7 linked regions of the Homo sapiens genome follow. The protein of the gene in region 7 interacts with the protein of the main gene of each other region in a biochemical or structural test. Each region holds a gene or a part of one and is shown on either strand. Other genes may lie near its edges. The genes, in order: TECPR2, CD226, PLCB2, KCTD3, KIDINS220, ERBB4 and APBA2.

What was found.
Region 1: the proteins of APBA2 (region 7) and TECPR2 interact in a test that uses a peptide from one of them, tested with the Homo sapiens proteins (one large-scale study listed by IntAct).
Region 2: the proteins of APBA2 (region 7) and CD226 interact in a test that uses a peptide from one of them, tested with the Homo sapiens proteins (one large-scale study listed by IntAct).
Region 3: the proteins of APBA2 (region 7) and PLCB2 interact in a test that uses a peptide from one of them, tested with the Homo sapiens proteins (one large-scale study listed by IntAct).
Region 4: the proteins of APBA2 (region 7) and KCTD3 interact in a test that uses a peptide from one of them, tested with the Homo sapiens proteins (one large-scale study listed by IntAct).
Region 5: the proteins of APBA2 (region 7) and KIDINS220 interact in a test that uses a peptide from one of them, tested with the Homo sapiens proteins (one large-scale study listed by IntAct).
Region 6: the proteins of APBA2 (region 7) and ERBB4 interact in a test that uses a peptide from one of them, tested with the Homo sapiens proteins (one large-scale study listed by IntAct).

What each region holds. Positions count from the first base shown.
Region 1 is NC_000014.9:102,428,941-102,432,440, reverse strand, and holds part of TECPR2 (tectonin beta-propeller repeat-containing protein 2), read right to left. Parts: intron 646-3,500; coding exon 313-645; intron 1-312. UniProt on the Homo sapiens protein: Probably plays a role as positive regulator of autophagy.
Region 2 is NC_000018.10:69,888,874-69,892,373, reverse strand, and holds part of CD226 (CD226 antigen isoform a precursor), read left to right. Parts: intron 1-3,500.
Region 3 is NC_000015.10:40,301,436-40,304,935, forward strand, and holds part of PLCB2 (1-phosphatidylinositol 4,5-bisphosphate phosphodiesterase beta-2), read right to left. Parts: intron 2,644-3,500; coding exon 2,566-2,643; intron 1,922-2,565; coding exon 1,853-1,921; intron 1,175-1,852; coding exon 1,034-1,174; intron 915-1,033; coding exon 835-914; intron 755-834; coding exon 701-754; intron 598-700; coding exon 522-597; intron 175-521; coding exon of another isoform or gene 157-174; exon of another isoform or gene 1-156. UniProt on the Homo sapiens protein: The production of the second messenger molecules diacylglycerol (DAG) and inositol 1,4,5-trisphosphate (IP3) is mediated by activated phosphatidylinositol-specific phospholipase C enzymes.
Region 4 is NC_000001.11:215,619,304-215,622,307, reverse strand, and holds the end of KCTD3 (BTB/POZ domain-containing protein KCTD3), read right to left. Parts: intron 2,252-3,004; coding exon 1,690-2,251; 3' UTR 501-1,689; downstream 1-500. UniProt on the Homo sapiens protein: Accessory subunit of potassium/sodium hyperpolarization-activated cyclic nucleotide-gated channel 3 (HCN3) up-regulating its cell-surface expression and current density without affecting its voltage dependence and kinetics.
Region 5 is NC_000002.12:8,733,114-8,736,613, forward strand, and holds part of KIDINS220 (kinase D-interacting substrate of 220 kDa), read right to left. Parts: intron 1,641-3,500; coding exon 1,542-1,640; intron 568-1,541; coding exon 331-567; intron 1-330. UniProt on the Homo sapiens protein: Promotes a prolonged MAP-kinase signaling by neurotrophins through activation of a Rap1-dependent mechanism. Provides a docking site for the CRKL-C3G complex, resulting in Rap1-dependent sustained ERK activation.
Region 6 is NC_000002.12:212,528,803-212,532,302, forward strand, and holds part of ERBB4 (receptor tyrosine-protein kinase erbB-4 isoform JM-a/CYT-1 precursor), read right to left. Parts: intron 1-3,500. UniProt on the Homo sapiens protein: Tyrosine-protein kinase that plays an essential role as cell surface receptor for neuregulins and EGF family members and regulates development of the heart, the central nervous system and the mammary gland, gene transcription, cell proliferation, differentiation, migration and apoptosis.
Region 7 is NC_000015.10:29,053,474-29,056,973, reverse strand, and holds part of APBA2 (amyloid-beta A4 precursor protein-binding family A member 2), read right to left. Parts: intron 3,130-3,500; 5' UTR 3,090-3,129; coding exon 2,139-3,089; intron 1-2,138. UniProt on the Homo sapiens protein: Putative function in synaptic vesicle exocytosis by binding to STXBP1, an essential component of the synaptic vesicle exocytotic machinery. May modulate processing of the amyloid-beta precursor protein (APP) and hence formation of APP-beta.

The sequences.
Region 1 (3,500 bases), on a different chromosome or scaffold from region 7:
CGCAAAAAATAAATAAATAATATAAATACATAAATAAATATTGAAAAGTACAAAACTGAGACCCTTTAAGCAGGGTGGTGAGTACACACAGGTGTTCTGTCATCATTTAGACCTTACAGTGTGTGTGTGTGTGTGTGTGTGTATTTTCCGTTAATGTGAAGTATTTTGCAGTAAAACTCCTTTGGGGAAGAAATGTATGTGTTCTCTGCTTTTGGATGTATGGAGCATTGCTCACTCAGTGAGCAGCAGCACTCCCAGAGAATCTGGAAAGACTGTAACCCCAGATGGGTGTGTGCCAGCTACAGAGGGTACCTGTCTTCTTCTTCTTCTTCTTCCTTTTCACTTTGATAGGCTTCACGACAAGCTCCTGGTCAAAGTCCTCTGAGCTGATGGCGTTGAATCTCTGTGACAGGGGCTGGCTGCCCTTGCCCAGCTCAGGGGTGGCCTGGAGCCCAGGGGGCAGGAGCCCGGAGCCGCTGTCGGTGGAGTTGAGCGAGCTGCTCCTGCTCCTTGGCTCGCTGGCCACGGAGCTGGCCATGGAAGAGCCTCTGAGCCTCGTCTCAGAAACTGTGGCCCCTGGCAGCTTCTCCGCTTGCTGCACGTGGACACGCTCTGAGCATCCAGACATCTCCAGACCATCTCTCACTAAGAAAGAAGAGTCTGGTTTTACCACTGGTGATCCAAGAGAGAGCTGATGTGCACTTATCCACGTTTGCTAGCCCTAAATACCAGTTGTCACAGAGGCACCAGCCAGCTAAAGAACTGAATGATTCTAAATTCATAGAAACCAGCAAAACTAGGATGGGCACGGTGACTCACGCCTGTAATCCCAGCACTTTGGGAGGCCAAGGCGGGCGGATCACAAGGTCAGGAGATCAAGACCATCCTGGCTAACACAGTGAAACCCCGTCTCTACTAAAAATACAAAAAATTAGCCGGGCATGGTGGCGGGCGCCGGGGGTCCCAGCTACTTGGGAGGCTGAGGCAGGAGAATGGTGTGAACCTGGGAGGCAAAGCTTGCAGTGAGCCGAGATTGCGCCACTGCACTCCAGCCTGGGCAACACAGTGAGACTCCGTCTCAAAAAAAAAAAAAAAAAAAATCCACCAAAACTAAAAGAATCATACAAAAGACTCTAAGAAACAGTTTTTGTTCTTCAAGAAGCTCATATATTAAAATCAGTAAAATAATTTGCCATAGCTTTCTTTTTATATTTATTTATTTATTTATTTTTGAGACGGAGTCTCAAAATTTAGCAGGGTGTGGTGGTGCACGCCCATAGTCCCAGCTACTTGGGAGGCTGAGGTGGGAGAATCATTTGAGCCTGGGAGGTGGAGGTTGCAGTGAGCTGAGATCATGCCACTGCACTCCAGCCTGCACGACAGAGTGAAACCTGTCTCAAAAAAAAAAAAAAAAAAGTAAAAAAATACTAAGAATACAGCATTTCTCGCTTCAATTTACAAATTATTTACAAATGAGAGATGCCTGTGTATAACAAAACAGCTTAGTTATACTTCATACTAAGACTCTGCCTTGAATATACTTTAAGATTACTCAAAGGGCATTTGAAAAATACATGTGTACCTGTAATTAAGTTTCCTGGAAGAGGGAAAGGTAATTTTCCATTAGAACAAACTCAAGACAGAGAAGTCCATTACCACACAGCATCAAGGCCAGTAGACCGCAGAGTGAGAACAGGCATGTGAGTACCTGTCTCCTGTCCCCAAGCCCAAGGGCCAGTGAGCTTCCCACTGCAGTGGACTCATCTTTTCTGCAACACGACACCACAGGGCACAAGGCCAGAGCAGTTCCAGCTACAGTACCCTCAACACAAGACCACAGCCCACTTTGATCCATTCGCCATCCTCTCTTTATCGGGGATCCTCCGTGTGCCAGACACAGGGCTAGCTGCTGGGACATGGCAGTCCATAAGACACAGGAATTCCTGCCCTTGAAGCACCCACATTCTATTGAGGGCATGTGTTAGGGGCAGACTGCAGGCAATGAAGTGTACACTGGAGACTGGAGGGGAGGACTCTGCTGTGAAGCGACTTGCTGAAGATTACATAACTTAATGGCAGATCTTGCCTAGAGCTCCCTGTCCAATAGGCAGCCACCAGCTACTTGTAAGTATTGAAATTCAAATTGATCAAAATTGAACAAAATTTAGGCTGGGCGCGGTGGCTCATGCCTGTAATCCCATCACTTTGGGAGGCTAAGGTGGGAGGACTGCCTGAGCTCAGGAGTTCGAGACCAGCCTGGGTAACATGGTGCATGGTGAAACCCCCTTTCTACTAAAATACAAAATATTAGCCTGGTGTGGTGGTGCACACCTGTAATCCCAGCTATTCGGGAGGCTAAGGCAGGAGAATCGTTTGAACCCAGGAGGTGGAGGTTGCAGTGACCAGAGACTGCACCACTGCACTCTAGCCTGGGATACAGAGCAAGACTCTGTCTCAAAAAATAAAATAAAATAAAATAAAAATTAAACAAAATGTAAAATTCATCTCTCAGCTGCACTTGCTATATTGCAAGTACTCAGCAGCCACACATGGACAGGGACTGCCTACCAGACAGGGCAGATGGGAGCATCTTCATCACTGCAGAAAGCTCTATGGGCAGCAGAGGTCCAGAGCTTAGCCTGGTGGCTCCAAGTCACCACCCTTCCTGAAAGCCATTCTAACCCTTTGATGACACTGTCTGAGGGGCCCCCAGCTCATAAACTCAAGAGTCAGAGCTTATTCACTTCTTATACAAATTATGTTTTGGAATATTCACCCCAATTTGCCCTCTCTGACATCAGAGGTAATGGTAGTGAGGAGGAGGGTGATGGGGTCCACATGGCTGTTGTTGCCACCATGAGGAACAAGTTCCCCGAGGAACCCAAATATATAAAGCATGTGGATGTCCGCAAGAGGACACATATTAGGATTCTTTGCTCATTAAAATTTGGGCTTGTATGAATTACCAAAAAATGTCAAAAGCACAGAGAAAAATAAATCCTACAAGGAAGAACTGAGTTAAGGGTAAACGGTATGTCCCAGATGACAGATTTAAATATTCTAAAACTCTATGCAAATCTATGTCTTTTGGAGCATTAATCCCACATACTGTCTCAGACGGAGAGCAGGGATCAGTAAAGTGGTTTCTGATTTTTCCTTCCTCCTTTCTCAATCTCCCCATCTTCCACAACCATGAAAGCAACTCCACTAAATGTGAGACTATCTGATGTAAGCCTTAAAGTAGGTGACTTTCAAGAAATGTACTGTAAATGCTATTTTAACAATCAGAGGAGCGGCCGGGCACAGTGGCTCACGCCTTTAATCCCAGCACTTTGGGAGGCGGAGGCAGGCGGATCGCCTGAGGTCGGGAGTTTGAGACCTGCCTGACCAACATGGAGAAACCCTGTCTCTACTAAAAATACAAAATTAGCCTGGCATAATGGCGCATGCCTGTAATCCCAGCTACTCAGGAGGCTGAGGCAGGAGAATAGCTTGAACCT
Region 2 (3,500 bases), on a different chromosome or scaffold from region 7:
GATTTTCATTTGTCATAAGAGAAGTATTTTAGGTGCCACTAAAATAATTTGTCAAATATTTTAATATTAGCTAAATGATTTGCAGACTACTATTGTTTAAACTGACCTTATTGGCTATAAAAAGAATGAAGGCAAAAGAAATAAAATCAGCTCTTGCAGAAAGTTTCTGGAGGAGGCTAATATTGAAAAAACTTCTGTTTGCTATTGATAAGTATAATTACTCATGTCCTTGTATAATCGTCTTCCACCAGTGAGACCACTCAGGCGGGACCATCAAGGTTCAAATGAGGCATTGATGATTAGAGCTGAGGAATGACATGAAACAGGTTATGAAGAGTAACCCCAAATATGCAGGAGGAATGGGGAGATGGTGCATGGGAGACTGTAGTCAAATGACTAGGTTGGTATGGAGAGTCTAAGTTATGTATTAATATGGGACGAGGTAGGTTAAATTAAGTGATGACAGTGAAAACCTGCATCTCATATAATTGTCAAGCAAAGCTACCATTAGTTCTTGAGCAAAGATGGCAAAACAATAATCATGAAAGAATAAGTTGCTATATGATTTTCAGTGTGCAAGTCTTTAACATTTTTGGTTAAGTTTATTCTTAAATACTTTATTCCTTTTATTGTTATTGGGGATGGGATTTTGTTTTAATTCCTTTTTTGGATAGTTTGCTGTTTGTGTACAGAAACCTGACTGATATTTTATATGTTGATTTTTGTATCCTGCCTCTTAACTGAATTCATTTATTAGTTTGAACAGGTTTTTTTGTGGCACTTTTAGGGTTTTATACATATATGATTATGTCATCGGCAAACAGAGATAATATTACTTCTTCCTTTCTGATTTGAATGCCTTTTGTTTTCTTTTTCTTGTTTAATGGCTCTGATTAAGACTTCTTGTACTATGTTAAGCAGAGGTGTTGAAAGTGGCCACCTTTGTCTTTTTCCTGATCTTAGAGCAAAAGTTCTCAGTCTTACATGACTTGGTATGATGTTAGCTGTGGGCTTTTCATAGATGGCCTTTATTGTGTTGGGGTAAATTCTTTCTGTACCTAATTTGTTGAGAGTTTTTTTTTTTTAATCACACAAGGATGTTGAATTTGTCAAATGCTTTTTATGCTCTATTTTGATGATCATGTGGCCTTTTTATATCACTTTGTTAATGTGGTGTATTACATTGATTGATTTACATATGTTGAACCATCTTTGCATGCCAGGGATAAATCAGAATTGATTAGAATATACAATCCATTTAATGTGATGGTGAATTTAGTTTGCTAGTATTTTGTTGAGGATTTTTTCATCTGTGTTCATTAGGGATGTCAGCCTGTAGGTTTTTTTTTTTTTTTTGTGGTGTCTTTGTCTGGTTTTGGTATCAGGGTGATGCTGGTCTCATAAACTGAGTTTAGAACTGCTTCTTTTTTTAAAAAAGAATTAAATCATTTATTGATTACACATGATAATGTAGAACTGTTTCTAAACTCAGGATTGGCATTAATTCCTAGAATGTTTGATAGAATTCATCTGTGAAGCCACCTGGTCCTGGGATCAGTGATGGGTCATAGGCCACTGATCCACCTACCTTTGTAGGCACAAAGGTGTCCTACACAGGGTAGAGAGATACTGTCAGCATGATTTGAATCTCAGTTTGTGCTTTCCACTGCCTCAAAACACTCACACTTTCCTACTTTCTCCTTTTTCTAACTGACTAAGTTTCCATCACATTTGCTTTCTTTCCTATAGAGTTTCAGCCGTCTCAATGTCTATGTTTTTTTCCACATCAGACCAAACTGCTTCCCCATCATTGAAATATTAAGCATCTTGGATTTCTCAAACTTTTATAGTCTGAAAATTGCTACCCTCGAGTGACTTATTAACTTCCATCTATTTGTATTTATTTATTTATTTATTTTTTGAGACCGGGTTATGAGACTGGCTAATTTTTGTATTTTTGGTAGAGATGGGGTTTCAAGGATGGTCCTGGGCTCAAGCAATCCCCTGCCTCAGCCTCCTAAAGTGCTGGGATTGGTAGTGTGAACCACCACACCTGGCCTGCATCTATTTGTAATGTTCCAAACTCTGGTTATCAGAAATTAATTGAGATTAAGGATTATGGCATCTGCTTAAAGTTGTCAAAGCATCTTTTCAGAATATGCCCAGTAAGTGTTCTTGACCGATTATGTTAATGTTTCTATTCATTCTAGTAGGGGCTGTGTCCATTTTAATTTTAAGTTTTCTACCTCTTTTCTTTCCAGATTTTTTTTCTTCAACGTTTAACCTTTGAGGTTTACTGATTGTTGATCAAAGAAACTGAACTTTCAAAAGATCAACTACAGTGATTGGAGAAAAAACTTTCATGAACTCTTGTTTACATATATAACTTTCAGATAGGGCTATTTACTTTTTTAACTTTCATTTTCTTATTTTGAATTTTTAATATAAGTGGCACATAATTGCTGGTCATCTGAATAGAAGGATGGGATTAGTAAATTAAGATTACAAAACTATTCACTAGGAAATCATAGTGCCACAGCTAAGAGAATCTTCCCAGATATTTCCTCTGGGACGATGTGAGGTATAGGATTGACAAGGAGGAAGGACAGGGGAATAGAGTGCTGTAAGTTATAAATACATCCGTATATAGATGATACATCTTATTTATACAGATTATAAATCTTGCCTGTAGATGGCTTGTGGGAGGTTACTGACTTTGAGACTCTGTGCTCCTGAGTTGGATTATAAAATTATTGAAGAAAGGAAATAAATTTTGCTTATTTCCTTGGCCTTTTATTTCTGTCAAAAACCAACCAGTTTGCTCCCAGTCCATTTGGATTCCAGAAGAGTTTCAGGTTGTAGACAAGACAGTTTTTTTTTTTTTTTAAGGATTCCATTAATCCAGAACCTTCTGTCCCACTCCTATGAATTTAGAATAGATATAAAGCTTGTGGACATGAGGATTGTCTGAACTGGTGTGCACTGGGCTGACAGATATGTCCCTTTCCATGACATTGTGTGGTGAACCTCAGCCTTTTATTATCTTTACCTACATGGAAAGTAAAATGTCCATGACAGTTAATTTATATGATGGAGCAACACGACCAGAATCCCAGAGCACCGTGTCACTGCTCACAAGCTAAAATAACCTCTACTCAAACAGATCAACCACAATTTTCAGCCCAATTTAGTTTTCTCGGTGAAACTGGGTATCCAGATGAAACATAGTTTCCAGCATCACAAGTGAGTTGATTACTCAATCATGGCTATTATGTGGTTGAATCTTTACTTTACTGTTGCCTCTGCCCAGATCATTTTTTTTAATGATCTATTGCATTCAAAAAAATGCAACCGGTCAGTTAATTTGTTTTGTAAGCCCTAGTATTGATCTATTCATTTTTTGAACACACAAAAACCTAGAATGTTTGCCTGCAGTCATTTTTTATACATACTATTATTGTATAGATAAGTAAGATATTGAATAATAGTGATAAGTTATT
Region 3 (3,500 bases), about 11 Mb from region 7:
AAAATTAATTATTTAACTAAAAAGACAGGGAAAAATGCTTTTCTGTACAGAGCAGAAGTCTGCATCTTGGCAGCTTCCGCCTTTGGTTCAGTTCCTCTCCCTCGACACGCTGCAGACTTCCAGATCCCTGCAGACTGCCGCCTGCCACTGCCGACCTTATCTCGCTCCTCCAGGCTGAAAACATTCACGCTCAGCTCCCATTCCCAACACTAGACTGGGAATGCATGCCGTTTCTGCTGCCTGCCCTGAACACAGTCCATCAACCACAGCCCCAGCGCCCCCACCACCCAGGGTAGGGGATACAGACAAACCTGCTTGGAGCTCAGGGTCTCACTCCCTTGCCCTGGCTCCACCCCTGTGCCTAGTGTCAGTAACCAGCAGCTCCAGGGTTGATTGGCTCTCCAGGCTCTTGGCTGGGGCTGTGATGTCACCTCTGCTCCCCCACCCACCATTCCTGGCCAAGTTGCTTTCTGGTGGGGACAAGAATGCTGGGGGATGGGCAGGGGTGCAGATCCACTCACTTTGCCTTTGGGGAGGTGGCAGGCACTGAGAGCAGCTTCCACCCGCTTGCGGTCAGCAGGAAACATCTGGAAAAAGCTGAAGGGGCAGAGAAAGGTACCAGGTACAGAGAGGAGTCAGGCCTGAGAAAGAAAGGCTTTGGGGAGCCCCTGGAAGCCTGGGGAGGGGTTGGGGGGCTCACTTCTTCACCGGAATCTTCCCTTCAGAGTTGAGCTGCATCTTGAGCTTCACAAGGCTGGGGGCAGAAAGCAGCCCGTCAAGGCCCAGGGCTGGCATGCTCAGCACCAGGGCTCAGGCCAGGCAGAGGGCACTTACATCTTGTCCAGGAAGGTGCTGCGGGAGGCGTTGGCCGTCAGCGGATGTTTGACTAGGGCCAGTACGTCCTCAGCCCAGGCCTGCAGGACCACAGAGAGCAGCGGTCAGGCTCCTGAGCACCCCCGCCCAGGCCTGTGTCTCTCAGGAAGTCCAGGCTATCCCAGGGGCCCAGACCCAGGCCCAGTGCTCCCTGGCACACCTTGCCCACGTTCTCCTTGTAGGAGACGAAGTTGTGGAAGGTGAGGTCCACCATGTCCGGGCCGGACACCACCGTGAGTGTCTTCAGCAGGAAACTGTTATCAGGAAAGTCCATGTTGAAGACGTCCCGGAGCTTCTGGCTCTGCAGCACGTGGTGGTATGGTTAGGATGGAGGTGTGCTCCCTCCCTGCCCAGTGTGGCTCTCTCTGGCCCTCCCCTCAGCCACTTGGGCTATGGCCCACTGGGCAGAACCCCATCCCCATCCCAGGAACCACAGGCCTTAGCATCTTCCTGTCCCTGACTCCAGCGGCTGGGATGGGAAGGAGAGGCCCTGAGGAAAAGGTTAGCCAAGATGGCGGGCAGGCGGGGAGGCCGGCCTGGGAGTCCTGTGTGTGTTGGTTGCCACTTTTGTTTGAAGATAGATTCTTAGCTCCCAGTCTCAGGAAACCCCGCTTCCCACCAATCCCTTCCTCCAATTTTCCTACCAGCATTAGGCAAATATAGGCAAACTAGTCCGGGGGTGGGGGTGTAAGCCACCCCTCCCAGACAGACTGGGGTGCTTTAGGGGCAGGAGGTGACCCCTCCTCCCAGATCCCTGCCATCTCAGCTCACTGTGCGCAGTTCTGAAGCTCAGAGCCCAGGCGAGCCCAGGAGCTGCCGCTCCCCTTCCTTGGCTTCCAGCCACGGTCCTTGCTGCCCAGCCAAGGAACCATTCCCCGTGCTTCAGAAGTCAGGCTTCCCACCCGCACAGGGACCCCTGCCCTTGCCCCATGGAGCTAGTAGCTGTGCTTGAGCCTGGGCTGCTACTGGACACACCTACCTTGGGCATCTTGGCAAACTTCCCAAAGCGAGTATCCCGGATGCTGGTGATATCCAGAAACTCCATCTCCTGGGGGCAGGGTGCGGATCCCGGTGGGAGCAAAGAAGGGATGTGGGACAAAAAGTCCAGGTCAAGAATGAGCAATAGGGAGAAGGGAGCTTCCACACCCTTCAAATCTTGGCCAACACCTCTCTCTAGATGCCAGGCTGCCCAGGGCCAGCTGGACCCAAACTTCCCTTCCTATGGCCCAGGTTCTCTCTATTCATGCAGATCCTCCTCCCTTTCCCTCTGTCCATTCCTCCCTGGCAGGGAGCTGGAGCCTGCAGTGTCTCCTCCACCATCCTGGACCCTTCCCAGCTTCCCCTTCCCGTCCTCCTGCCCAGAGGCTGGGGCCTATCTCTCATCTCCCAGAGCCCCAAGTCAACCCACAGCCACAGGCAGAGCATCAGCCTTCAGCAGCAGTGCTTTCGCCTGTCTCTCTCTCTCCCCAAGGGATGCTAAGGATGGAACATTTGGGTAGCCACAGGTTGGAGTGACTGCATCCTCCTTTCCAGAGCAAAGAGCCCCTGCCTACAGGGGAGCCTCTGGAGCCACCCTTCCAGGCCATTCTGTACTCCCCAGCATCCATGCCTCCACCTTGGTGCAGCCAGGGGGCTGTCTGGCCTCAATGATAAGCAGGAGTCCAGGGCCATGGCACACAAGGGTTTTCTCACCTTACTTTGATACGTCCAGTATAAGTAGTAGCCCTTAGGATCCACACGGAGGATAACTGGAGAGGCAACTGTAGTTTCCTGCAGAGAGAAGGAGCCAGCACTCTGTTCCAAGACCTCAGGCCAAGCCTCCCTGGTCCAGGCCAGGGGTTTCAGAGCTCATTATCTTCCCAGGAGGTGCCCATCCCAGAAATCTGAAGGCATTTCCTTTTGTTGTCTAGAGCTAAGCACCAGGAGGGACAGAGGATTGGGGATGCCATTTCTGGAAGAGAAGGGTTTTCCCCTCTAAAGCCCAAATAGACATTCTCCCTCTAGACCCTAAAGAGGATCTTGGCCCCTACCTCATCTCATAGAGCGAGACTCCCTACTGCCACCCAGGAGAGATTGACACAGCGAGAGCCAAGAGCCCAAACTCCTGCACCAGCATCCAAGGCCCTGCACAATCCAGATGCAACCTAACCTCCCATATGCCCCTTCTTCCCTCCATGAACACCTCCTACCCTGTCCATTCAACTGTCCCATAAAGATACCAAGCCTTCCCACCTCCAAACCTAAGTGCCCAAATCTCCTCTGCTTGAAATAACTTCAAGGACAACCCAAGCCCCCCAACTTCTGAAAACCCTTCCTGAAATGTGCTACAGTAACCGGGGGGATGTGAGTCACAGACCTACAAGCCCACCTAGGAAATCCCCAGGGACTCATGGACTCCAGGACAACAAGCCTGTGCTAGACCTTGAGCTTGGTGCTTGGTGCTTGGCACTTGAATGTGGTGTTTGCTGAATGAGCAAATGAATGAATGAATGAATGAATGAACTCACCTTCTAAAGTCCTGTTCCACTCACTGACAGAGCACATAGGCTACCTTTTAGTTTAACGGTCTTTGTATGTGTACATAACAAGATATTAAAATTAAGGTTTCCAGCAAGGCACAATAGTTG
Region 4 (3,004 bases), on a different chromosome or scaffold from region 7:
GTAGGTATAATGAAAAAATTAAGGCATAATGGGGGCAATCTGAGAAATTAGTGTCAGAGTAGACAGACATAAACCACTGCATCAAGGTTCAATCTCCTGTAAGCAAAAGAAAGAAACGATTTGACTTGTACTGTAATGCAATCTAGTATAGTCAGTTTCCTTTTTATGCGATTCTATTACATAATAGTTACTATCTTCTTTTTAATGGCCTTTTATTCCTGGTCACTAGAGTCTAGTTTTTTCTTTCATTTTCTTACTTGCCCACCCAACTTTCACATAACTGTCATAAAGAGGAAGAAGGGTGTAAGATAATTACAATCTTAGTAATTTTGAAATTATGCTTTGCCTAATATTTTCTTTCATTGATAATAACTTATTTTCCACATATATTAAGTTCTCCCTCCCCCCATTTTTTTTAAATTATGGGAAGAAGCAAAGAAATGAACAAACATATATAGCACACTTTAAACAGAACTGTTACTTAAATAACTGAAAACGCATTGACATAATCATTTTTATTTGATTTAATTGATAAATAAATACAAGAGAACTGTTGTGAAACCACTGGCAATATAGTAAATTTTAAAGATTTTATTTCAACTTCACTCACTTATATTTCTTGGAATGGGGATATATACATTATTCACCAATAAATGCTAATGCTTTAAATTTACAATTACCCTATTTGTAGAAACCTGAAGATCATTCCAATTAAATGAAAAAAAATTGTACAAAAACGTTCTTTTGCTCTTACAATTCAAAATACATTCAAATTCACATTCTTACAGCAGCCAAAACCTTTAACCCAAAATTCAGAACTGCAGTCCTACAAGTGAACAAACTAGTGTTTTAATTTAATTATCATGATTGTTGTTAACACTGAAAAAAAAACATGGTGGCTCCTGAAACAAGACAGGTTAGCAACTGGTACAGCTTTCCCTTCTGGGCACTCAAAGCTTTGCCCTTGATTATTATTTTTATTTCATCTTTTCAAACACAGACAATTGCTCCAACTTGAAAGTTTCAATGGAATTTTGGCATTTAATATTGCTAATGCTTGCTAAGATTTAAGATCTCCCAATGATGAGAATCAGAAAATGACGCACGACTAAATTAAAATCATCCTAAAAGACTTACTACATAGTGGTATCTGGTATTCAATATCAATAGTGTTTTTGAATTACATGATATGTTTTTCACAAACATAGCACCTCATCAAATATCTGGTAAACACTTTGCAATCACAATAAGTGTTGGGAGACCAAGTTCCAAAGACAATTATGTGATTCACTTAAAGGTAACATTGTAAGACAAGTCTCAGGCATAATGAAGATTAGGAATGCAGTCTGCTGGTTCCCATGATCTAAAGGGATGCTCACCTATATGGGCACCATCCTATTAAGACGTGGTAATATGTTTCCAAACCAAAAAAAGTCGGTAAGTGTTAAAATGGACTCCTGCTTTATAAATGATCTGTTAAATGTACTTGTAAAATTAAAAAAATTTCCAAAATGTCAAAAGAGATATGATTATTGTATCTCATTATTCCAAGTAATTCTGTTAAAAAGATACTAAATGAAGTCCAATTTTATCTTGTAAAGTTTTAGTGTAAAAACTAATGTACTGAAATTCAGTAAAGTTTAACTTTCATCTAAATGTAACGAAACAACTATTCATTTTGGTGAGTTTTCACAAGCTGTACTCCTGACCTGAAGAATCACTTTTTTTATGCCGAGGAGATGGAGTAGTCTTTGTAGGAGATGGGGACGCAGTACCAGGTGAGTCAGTTCCTCCATCGGAAGTACTTGGTGATGACGCCAGATAGGGAACTTTCTTTCTTCCAAGGAATCCTCCCCCTTCAAATCCTCCTTTCTTCCTAAACTCTATTTTATTTTCATTTTCATCTTCTGATGACCTTTTCTTGGATTCTGAAAAACCTTCAGCTATTTTATGCACTTCCAATCCACTATCCAATTCTCTCAAACTTTTTATTTCTACTCCAGGAGACTTTCTCTCAGATATATTACATTCCCCTGTTGCCCCTTTCACTTCAGCTTGTATTGGACCCAAGTTACCATTTTCAGGGACAGCTCTTTCTACATTTCTGTTCAAATTAATAGTCTGGAAGTCCCTATAACTGTGAAAGCTCTCAGTCCTTCTTGCCCTTGCTAATAAAGGACTTTCTCTGTAAGGCCTCATGGAACCGTAAGTAGCTGCTTCATGGGTGGTATCATGGTGCTGAAGCTGAAGGCTGAAATACAGTTTTTAAAAATGACAGTTCAGATTTCACTCTGTGATTTCTCAGGAACATATTAATTATACAACCAATAAAACACACTATATAAATACATAAAGTGTATTATATCCATATTTCTCTTTGTAAAAATATACTTATCAAGTACTCTTTATTATATAGATGGTATATAAAATTACCAATGCAAATAATACCATCATATATTCACAGACATGCTGAATTTTTGAACAGCTAAAAAAAAGATGGGAGGAAAAATCCTTGAAACCAATGTGAAACCATCATAATTCAGTATTTAGCCCTTGGTTCTTCAGACTTTGGAATTTATCAATATGATAACTAAAAAGACATTATGGAACTTTGTATTAAAATTACATAATGCTTAAATGTAAGACTAGACAACATAATAGAACCACAGATAAATATTGTCCCTGAGACAGGACAATAATTAAAGCTTCACATACTAACCAAGGTGACATGTAATTTTCCTAATTTCCTTTGAATAAATTCTTGATCACATAATAGGCTTCCAATTGGGCAGCAATTCACAAAATAAGTTAAAAGGTAAAAATGTTTTTCTATGAAAAGAACCAGATATGCCTATCAAGAAATTTGGTAAAACTGTTAAAAAGTTAACATAATGTCTGAATTTAAAATGTACCTTGAGAAGTATGGCTTTCTAGAACAACTATGTGATTACAATATTTCAGTCAATTTCCCCAAAAGAAATAAATTTTGTTTATAATACCCAAC
Region 5 (3,500 bases), on a different chromosome or scaffold from region 7:
GCAACAGGAAGATCGCCTGAGAAAGGCTGAATTTGCTGACCACCCTAGCTCAAGTGGCCTAATCCCTATTGACTCTGCATGCTGTGACCCTGATGGATATCTCAGCTCTCATCAATGTCTACATGAGCTACTTTTTTGTTTGTTTCACTGACTGCCCCTCTCCACATGGATGCAGCTCCTTGAGTACAGGGAGCCCTCCATCTTGTCTCCTGTTCACTTAGGTATTCAGTAAGCATTTTCTGAATGACTGTCTAAATGCCCATATAATCTCAGTGAACTGAACGGTGTGCTTATTCTTCAATAATATGAAAAATGCCATTCAATAAATACCTGCCAACTTAGATTACTGTGACGAGGGGCACCTTCATCCAGGCCAAGCGTGTTCAGCTCTTCGAAGCTGAAGTTGAGTGTGTAGGGCGTCTGGCTGGAGAGCTCGGTGTGAGGCAGCTCGTTGTGGGAAGCGCGGCGAGCAGGCTCACCGTGCGGGGCTGGGCCACTGCTGCTCTCACTGAGGAAACGTGGGTCTTCAGGGACCACGTGGCTTTCTGCGTTTCTCATTTCTAGTACCTTAACAGAAGAAAAACATAAATATTTACACTAACAAATCATATTTTAGAAGCTTTAGAAATATTTAGAAATACCAAACATTATAAAGCTATTGCAACAGCAATGAGAAAGCATACTTCTGGTAAGTGAATTTCTAGTGAATTTGTTTTATACATCAGCTTATCTTTCATGTTCATTAATACTAAAGGAAGCAATGGTAGAAACCACCATACATATACTACACTGCAATTTGTCCATTAAATTATTACTTCTGTTTAAAACTTAACTTGAGGACAAAGAAAAATGCAGCTGGCTTGTGTCAAAACCAGAGCTGGCCAGGAGTAGGGCGGTAGGTCCAGATTTTATTCAGAACTATGGCAACAGGGGTAAGCAGTCTCACTACAGAAGGGAGTCCAACTCGGAATAAGCACGAATGAGTGGGGATCTACCACCAAGGGGCAGGGTGGGGGTCGTGGATGGAACATTACTAAGGGGAGGCAGCAGGAGTGGGGGACTCTTGGTACGCCGATGGCCAGGGTGAGCCGACATCACCTGGGGGTGGGGGGGTTAGTGAGGCGTTTGATCAAATACTGAGGGTGATCACACATGTAAACTGACTTAACAGGATTCTTGCTAAACCTGGGCAATGCAAGCCCTATAAGGATGAATGCTGAAGGTCAAGGCCTCGAAGGCTTTGAGGAGCCTGATGAGAGTTAAGGCAGGTGAAAGCATGAAGAACCGGCAGGCGGCCTCTTCCCCAAATCTCTGAGTGAAATGCCCAAAAAGGCAAAGGCTGCCAAGTGCTGCTGTGTGTATTTTCCACAACACAGGATTGCACATAAGTGTAAGAAGCAGTTTTTAAATTTAAAAAAATATGAAAAAAATACCAGTTTAGGCCAGTACTTATTGATACTGGTTTTCTACAATGTTATAAATAATTTTGAATGTTATCATAAAATAATGTTGTAAACATCACAATGTTACAAATATCTTACTGTGCTTCTGAAAAGGTGCCAGTCTCCAAAATTCATATTCATCTCTTTCTTCAGCTCATCAATGTTACACTGAGCTAACACACGGCCATTTATGTTTGCCTGAGTAAAAATTAAAACAATTATGGGTATAAAGACAGAATGTGAAATATTCTGAATTACTAGTGATTGCCAAGTATGCTTATATTTAGTTTTAAATAAGTCTCTAGAGACCAGAAAGGCTGACCAAAAAAAAGGTTATCATCCCATATAATAATACAATAAACAAGCTGAATTTGAACAACATCAGCCACTTCATATTTTCCCAAATGTCTTAGGCATTTTCTGGGACCAACCGAAGAACTAACCCTCCTATTTCCAAAACTACCTATGCTGTCATGAGCAACAACAAAACTGTTAGTTTTTGTTTTCTAATCTTAGAAAATATGAACATGAACACAAGCTGCTGGGAGGGGACAAAGACATCTGTTCTCATAAGCGTGTTGGTCACTAACAACGTTCTAAATGAAGTAGGCCTGGCAAACTTGTTTATCCGTTATATTAGATACAGATATGAAGAATGCCCACCCACTAATTTTCCAGTCTATTAAATTCACAAGGCCCGGCGCGGTGGCTCACGCATGTAATCCCAGAACTTTGGGAGGCTGAGGTGGGTGGATCACCTAAAGTCAGGAGTTCGAGACCAGCCTGGCCAACATGGTGAAATTCCATCTCTATTAAAACTACAAAAATTAGCTGGGAGTGGTGGCACATGCCTGTAGTCCCAGCTACTTGGGAGGCTGAGGCAGGAGGATCGCTTGCACCCAGGAGGCGGGAGGTTGCAGTGAGCCATGGCCACGCCACTGCACTCCAGCCTGGGTGACATAGCAGGACTCCATCTCAAAGAAAAAAAAAATCATAAAAAAGGAAGTTATTACTTTTGGTTCCCTGTAATTCTAGTTTCCCCTAAATGAAACAACAGCATTTTCTTTATTAATAATAGGTAGCTTACTGCTTTTATAAAATGTAAAACCTGACTTTATTAACTGGGGCAAATTTATGAAATAGCTATGTTTATAATCAATAGAATGTTCAGTTTCCAAGTTAATCCTGAAGAAAACAGTATACACAGCAAGTCTGTGACAGAGGTCCTGCTGCAACAATGCCGCGGAGCCCTAAGCACGGAGGAGGCCAGCGGCTCTGAGGGGCTTCAGAAAGCCGGGGTCTAGGAGCAAAGAGCTGAGTGGGGAGAAAACCACTACCCCGATGGGAACAAAATCATCACAAAGGACTCGTGTGGGAGACCCCGCTCTTTCCTGACACCAACCAGCTGCCTGAAGGAGAAAGTGGGGCTTATCCATGGAAAAGCCGGTGTTTGACTCATGCAAACAGGGACTAGCACGAGCCAGCTCTGTAAGGAAACTGACATTATCTGAAACCTTTCTAAAATTGGCTGAGATGAGTAAAATGGTGTCTACATATGCTCATAATTCTTTAAAAAACTTCTCTCAGATGTCATTCTTTCAAGTATATAAATATTAGAGGCTGGTTATTAACGTTCTACTTTATTACACAGTACTCTGATATAAAAAGTATACCTTAGTGAAATACCTACTATAAAGACTTCGTTAAAACCTTCCCCCAAATCTCAGGCATCTCTAGCCAACTTCCTGATAGCTGCTAGAATTGCAATAGGATCTTAGAAGAAAAAAAAACTATGCAAATGCATTAACCTTGCAAACCCAAACCTATGTGGTTTCATCAAATGTGACATGATCCTAAGTCCTACATGACATGAAAATGAGAATTTGGAGAAAATGAGGCAAGTGTGGCTTACTTTGATAATCACTAAATCACACTAACAAATATTACAATTAGAAAAAAATGTAACACAAAGGTTTTCGGTTCCACACTGGAAAGATGAGTTCTGTTTATCCCAATGGGAATCCCTCAGAGCTTTCTCTTTCTCATCAAGGCATTCTT
Region 6 (3,500 bases), on a different chromosome or scaffold from region 7:
GAGCAACTAAGAGAATCCCCATCACCTCTCAGTTCAGTTATACTGCAAGTGCTTCCTTTATAGGATCCTTTTAAAATGGTAAGCATATGTCTAGTTGTCTATTTTAAGATACTGAGAAATCTTAGCTATAACAAAGTTGTATTATCACATATATCTAGGAATAGAAAATGCCAGATTCTATCTGGAACCCTTTTTCATGAAATATTTATTAACATTTTATCTGGAGGCAAATATTCCTCCCAAGAGTCTGCAAAATCACTTAATAACATATTTTTGTATTGTGTTTTATTGGCCTCATCTATTCTTCTTTAAAGAAAGAAAAAGCTGGCATCTTGAGCTTCTTATATTTCCTCTTCAGTTCCTAACATGGTCCTGAAATACACACTGGTGGATCAGTACATGCTTATTGCTTAAATTGATTAAATGTTTAAATGGCAGATAAGTAAGAAATAGCAAAATAATAGCCATTAACATTAAAATACTGAACTACAAAATATTTACATGTTTAAAAGTGGTATCCACATTCCACATATATTTAACTTGCCAGAAATAAAACCAACAGAAATTGCACCATATTTATGGGTAGATTCTAAAAATGGGGATAGGGATGAATGATAGCGTCTTAGAAACACACCACTTGAAGAAATACCCTAGGAAGCTCAAGAAAGCAACTAAAGAAATTTGCAGGGTAAACATGCCCAATAGCTATTATTAAGAATTCTATAATTATGTTATTCAAACAGCTTACTTTGTGCACTATATGGTTTAATTACAAATAATAACCATTCATGAACGAGCTTAAAATTGTTCCTGCAAATGTATGCTATTCATTCATGTAAAAAAAATTTTTAAAGAGCTTATATGTATGTGGCACCACATTAGTCTCTGCAGAGTATAAAAACATTGGTACTTAAAAAGTCAAAACTATTGGTTGGTTTGATTAAATGCCAGATAAGTGATATTGATAAGGACTACTGGCTAGAGTAGCCAGTGAAGGAAGATGTAACAAAGACGTATAATTTAAAGTAAAACTTAAAAGATTCAAAAGTTTGGCCAAGTAAAAGCACCAAGTAAGCCACAAATTCCAGGAAAAGGGATCAGCAAAAGTAAGGACAATAAGGAAGGCATAGTCATGAGATATTGACTAGGTCAGTCTGGTTTTTAGACAGAGTACATGTTAACAGACTCTATGATGGATTTAAAAAGAAATTGAAGACAGTTTTAGCAGGCTTTGAACATTACAAGAGGGATCCATGAAAAGTTTCAGAATAAAAACTAAGATAATATTAGAAATGGTAATCTGACAGTGACAGGAAGGAGATTTTAGAGGTTTGAGGACGTGGAAGAAGAAGAATACCCATAAAGAGGATCTTGCAATAACCCTGCCTGAGGTTTCTAAGGACCAGATGATGCTTATAAAAATCTTGGGGAGTAGCTTTTAACATACCTATGCAGTCAACTTTCCTTTAAAACAAACTTATTTAACTGCTCTGTTCTAGACAAAATTACCAGACAAAAGGAATTCCTGAAAATGAAAGTATGTGTATAAAAGAAATATTATCCTGTTGTATTTTTATTTGGTTTTCATAGGTCCCTATAGAAACCCATATTCTCACATTCTTTAAGCCTACAGAGAAGGACAGGAAATAATGACAAAGATTTCAGTAAGAGTTTGCCTAGAGCAAAATAGTCACTGCCACCCATGATCTCTATTAGGCATCCCCTTGATAGTGATTGGGACCCATCCTGAAATAGAAGACTGTGCCACTTATTGCTCAAGTCACAGCTATACTTGATATAGTCACAGAGCCTGGAGAATCTGTTGTCAATTATTTTCAGTCCTAACCAGCCATGAGATAACCCCAGCAGAGGAGAGAAAACAAGCACACGCATTTTTTGAAAGCAGGTTTATGATCCCCACTTGTATTCAAAAGATTAACACTTGGATATCCACCTATACTAGAAGCACATGGGACCAGGAGTAAGTAAAGGTCAGCAGAGCAGTAAAGATTTAGCAGGTGAAACCGATTGTTTACAAGTCTAATCTTTGTGGAAAATAAAAGAGTGTTTATTGTACCATTCACTTTCTTCTCTTTCAACACATTTAAACTATGTTCGAAATGAAATATATTATAAATCTTCAATCGGTCTTGAGTCCTTTTAATTTAACTCTCAGGACTCAGAAACTGGATCTTGCATATTCCTATTGGTGTTTAGTACGCTTCAGTAACCCCTACAATATTGGAAATAATGTGATTAATAGTAATGATCCTGTGTTACTTCTCATGGGAGAGGCTTAATGATATTGCACAGGAAGTTTCATGGTGTTTATGTTAATCTTTTACGGGGGTCCACTTTCATCTCCAATTTCTATCAGGAAATGACTCTTCTTGCCAAAACAAGTTTCAAACTTCCCTTCTTTCACATGGGCCCATGAGAACACTTATCATGCCCAAGACGGCTGAGGCACATGAGGGAACTCAGCTACAACCAGAGAGCATTAAGTTTAGGTCAAAAATATTGCAGTCAAAAGGCCCAGAGGTAGCATCTTACAGAAGCCAACTAGAGTGAGGCAAAGGTGCTATAGAAATAAATTTATAGTCAGTACTTAAAGCTTTGCTTATGCTCTTGCTCAAAGAATAGAACTATGTCTTAGTTAGGGCCATGATGAAAGAGGATGGCCCAACAAAGACCATAGAAATTATCATTTCATGTCATATCTTAGGTCCAAGGACAGGCCTAGATGAATCTGAAGTATTCTCATGGATTTCCTGGTTAAAGGTCTCCATCAACTAACTGGTGATGAGGAACCCACTGTTTATCCTTTACAATCCATCTTATTTCAGCATTCATAGTACTTATTTTAAAAATGAAAAAATAAGCATTTTCTGCTGACTGGACATCTTCATAAAGCCCAGGTTAAAAAAAAACAAAAAGAAAGAAAAGAAACTCTTAAAAGTGCTATTATATACAGATAGTACTGTGGGCTCCTGTGTGACTTTTAGGGAATTCAAGATTCTATGTCTCCATAGGCCTAACCAGGTAAAGAAATCCTCTTATAGAACGATGTCTTTAAAAAGTTGCTTTATTTCTTTACTCCTCATGTGCCATAACTTATCAATGCAATCAATGATTACTCTCCAAATATAAATTAAAGATGATCATGAGGATCCCACTGTCTTTCTTTTAGAAAGAACTACACAATATGGTAATTAGGAGTGTGGATCCAAGCCATTTGTCTTCATTTCAGTTTCTCAATTCTCTTTAATGCAACATAACCTTTTATTTGTTTCCTTATTTTTTTATGTGTCAGTGGTTTTTCAAATACTTCTATGTGTGCTACAGAAAATGATATTGGTGTCAGGAGCTGCCACTAGTTTATATTATCTAATTTCCTTGCGCTGTCAGTTTCCTTACCTAAAACATAAGATGACTGGATTACATCAGTGGTTTCTAGTGCCGGACTTCTATGACACCAGTGCAGGAGAGTAGAGGCAACA
Region 7 (3,500 bases):
AAAGCAGGTTGTTATTTCAAGCAAGGCAGCACCAAATCTCCCAGTGCACATCCTTCATAAAAAATCTTGCTTTCAAGATGAATTCTACGGCTCTTTCTGGTCAGGTTTCAAAGAGGTCCTCATCTGGAATGGGGTACTCAAATCTAAGAATGTGGAGACCCTGCCCACGTGCAGCGGGCCTGGTAGAGTCTTCAGAAAGAGTAGTCAGGGCCCCTGGCACCAGGGTACTTGTCAGCCTGGAACTCTGGAACTAGCAGGTGTTCCCCTTGACAGAATTAATTTGTGAACTGATAGGAAAGAAAGAAAGAAAGAGAGAGAGAGAGAGAGAGAGAGAGAGGAGGGAGGGAGGGAGGGAGAGAAGGAGGGAGGGAGGGAGGGAGGGAGGGAGGGAGGGAGGAAGGGAGGAAGGGAGGAAAGGAGGAAAGGACAGAAAGGAGGGAGGGAGGGAAAAACAAAACAAAACAAAAGCTATACAATCATTAACCAGTTTAAATGAACTTTTCCAGTGTCTCAGACAAGAGCATGTCCTTCAAGGACACATTCTCCTTAGGGGGAGAAGTGACATACTTTTTCATTCAATGCCTCTTCTGGGAAGAACAGACATCCTCTTGATCCTCCACAATGGCTGGGGACTTCCCCTACCTCCACCTGCCCTTTTAAACAGCTACTATCACCCATCCATCCATTCATTCCCACTCATTTACCTCCCAGCTCTCCAATCGCAAGATCTCTGTGTTTTTACCCAAATTACCATCTGGTTAGCATGAAGCACAAAACCAGAAAATATCAGGTCTTGCTTACTCCCCACCACGCTCTAAAGATAATCTTCTTTGACAAGAACTTGGCTAGCGATGCCATTTGTCACAATAAGACGCAGCATGTCACACGCTCTGCACAGCCCACGTCAATCCCTGAGGTGCCTTCACCACTGTTGTGGGACAAGCCCAGGCCCTGCTAAAGACCAAAGAAACACTTTGCTTTGGCCTAAAGCCCAGACCCAGGGTCCAGAGCCTCCTGGCCTTAGGGGTGAACTCTCCCAACACCCACTAGTACCATGGGAGCTCCTATGCATCCCACAGCCCCCTGTAAACACGGAATTGCTGTGAATGACAGGAACACCCCCAAAGTGAAGTCAACTGACACTTAACGTTCTTTAGAGAGAATACAAGACATTAAAATACAAGTGCTGAAAATCCAGGAGTCAATTAAAATATAAGTGCTGAAAATCCAATGATTTCCATTCCAAACCCAAGCTCTCAGTACACACACACACACACACACACACACACACACACACACACACACTCAAATTCATGAACTCTTCTCGGAAAAAAATATTTAACAGTTAAGGCTGTAAAAAAATATGACAGAAGTCCACATAATTGGCCAAATAGAAGTTCCTTCACACAAGTCCAATAATCACATCTTCTTTATATACTCACAGTGAGGCTTTTTTTGGAAGGTGGCTTTTCAAATGTGTTTATTAGAATGCACGCTGACTTTGCTATAATTAAAATACAGTTATGCTGACATCCACTGCCCTCATTAGCATGCGTTTCTTCCCCGAGGTTTTGTCAAACCTTCAAAAAATCCTTTTCCAAATAGGTATTCACAGCTGATTGCCCATCAGGCCAAGGCCCCCGGGCTTTCAGAGACCCGTCCATTGTGAAATGCACTCTGGCCCCGACCCCAGCCACCAGGCCACCCAACACTGGCCGCAGCAGTGGGTGAGCACCAGCACCCCCACGTCTTTGCCACTGCCCTGCTGGTCTGAGTACACCCCTGAGGATTGAGGGGCTCTCCCACACATACTGCCCCACCATGAGCAGACCAGGGCAGTGGGCAAGAAATCGAACCTCTCTTCTAGGGTGGGAGGAGGGGTGTCTTCTGCGAGACACGAGTTGCCACTCAGCCCTCAACCGGCTTTAGTCCTGAGTCTGAGCGGTGAGCTTAAGAGTGGCCGGAGCATCCACGCAACATGTCTCCCAACTGGACCAATGAAGAGCTCAGCCACCATTAGAACTGTGAGGCACCCAGCACCCCCCACCGCCTCGCTTCAGCATCTGCAAGGCCTGTACCCTGAGGTCCCTTGCTCTCGGGCCCCTCTGCTCCCTTCCCCAGGACAGCCAGGGTCCTACCTGCTCGTGGGGCCACTTCAGCCTCTCTTCTGGGGTCCTGGTCTTGGGCTTGAAGCCTCTCTGGGGGTCTCCGGGGTGCTTGGCCTCGGGAAGGAGGTTCAGCGACTTGGGCCTCGCCTCGTGCCTGCTGGGGCTGCAGCTGGCCTTGATGGGTGGGCAGGCCTCTACAGAGTCCTCAGGCCCTGGCTCAGGCCCATGCTCGGGGCTGGCCTCACTGGCGCTGGTGATGCTGGTCATGCTCAGACTCATCTTGATCTCTGCCACGATCTGGTCAATGTCCTCCTCCTGGTCCTCCAGGTCCCCATCCCCACGCCTCAGGCGGTAGGGGGAGGCGCCGGTGTTCCCGTTGGCCTCCTCGGGGTAGTAGTCCTGGTAGCCCTCTTTGCTGGCACAGTAGTGACCATCTTCTTCCTGGTCATGGGCCTCAAGGACGGAGGGCTCATCCTCCGGAATGGGCAGTTGGCCGTCTGGGTAGTCCTGGCTGCCTTCAGCCTCGTGGCCGTGGGGGTGCGGGCCCGCCGAGTCCGTCCACTCCTCCACCGCCTCCTGGCACTCATCAGTGTCCACAGGGTGTGCACTGTGGGCCAGGTACTCCTCCCCGTTGCAGTCCATGCCCTCTAGGTAGCTGTCGTCCTCAGGGCAGTAGCGGATGTAGTAGGTGATGCCCTCCTCCTCCTCAGGGAGGCCCTCGTCATAGTCCTCCTCCTCAGAGGTGTTGTTCACGTAGTCAGAGCTGGAGTCCCCATCGGGGCTGTGGTTGTGGCACTCCTGTTCCTCTGGCGCGGGGCTCTCTGGCCGCAGGGCAGCCAGCTCCAGGCCCTCGGGCACATAGCCCTCCAAGGGCAGCTCCATGTCCTCGCTCTCGGGCTCCTGGCTGTGAGGGACAGGACCTGGTCTCACCCTATGGTCCAACATGCCGCTCCCCACGCTCTCAAGCTTCCGGTGGGCCATGGCAGTCGTTCACACAGCCATCATCACCCGGAGGCAGCCACTGTGGGGAGGAACATTGGGAAGGACAGAGTCAAAACCCCACAAAGCCCAGCCATGTGTGGGGCCACTTCACCACAGCACCTCCCACCACGTCCTCCCGCAGCCATGTGAGGGCACATCTGTTCAAACAGTGCGCCATCCCCACCCCCGCTAACTCATCATCAGAACAACACGCATCCACACCAAGGAGAACGAGGGCACACAGAGCTCCGGGAAAAGCAGTCAAGGGAGGCACCGGCAACTCACGAGGACACACGCCTCTCCCCAGGAACCTACCGGCTCATTCCTGACTTCTCACTCAGTTTGGGTAGCCCAGGTGACCAAGACAAATGGTCAGAAGATCAGGTTGTTTGCTCTCACGAAGAAAATGAG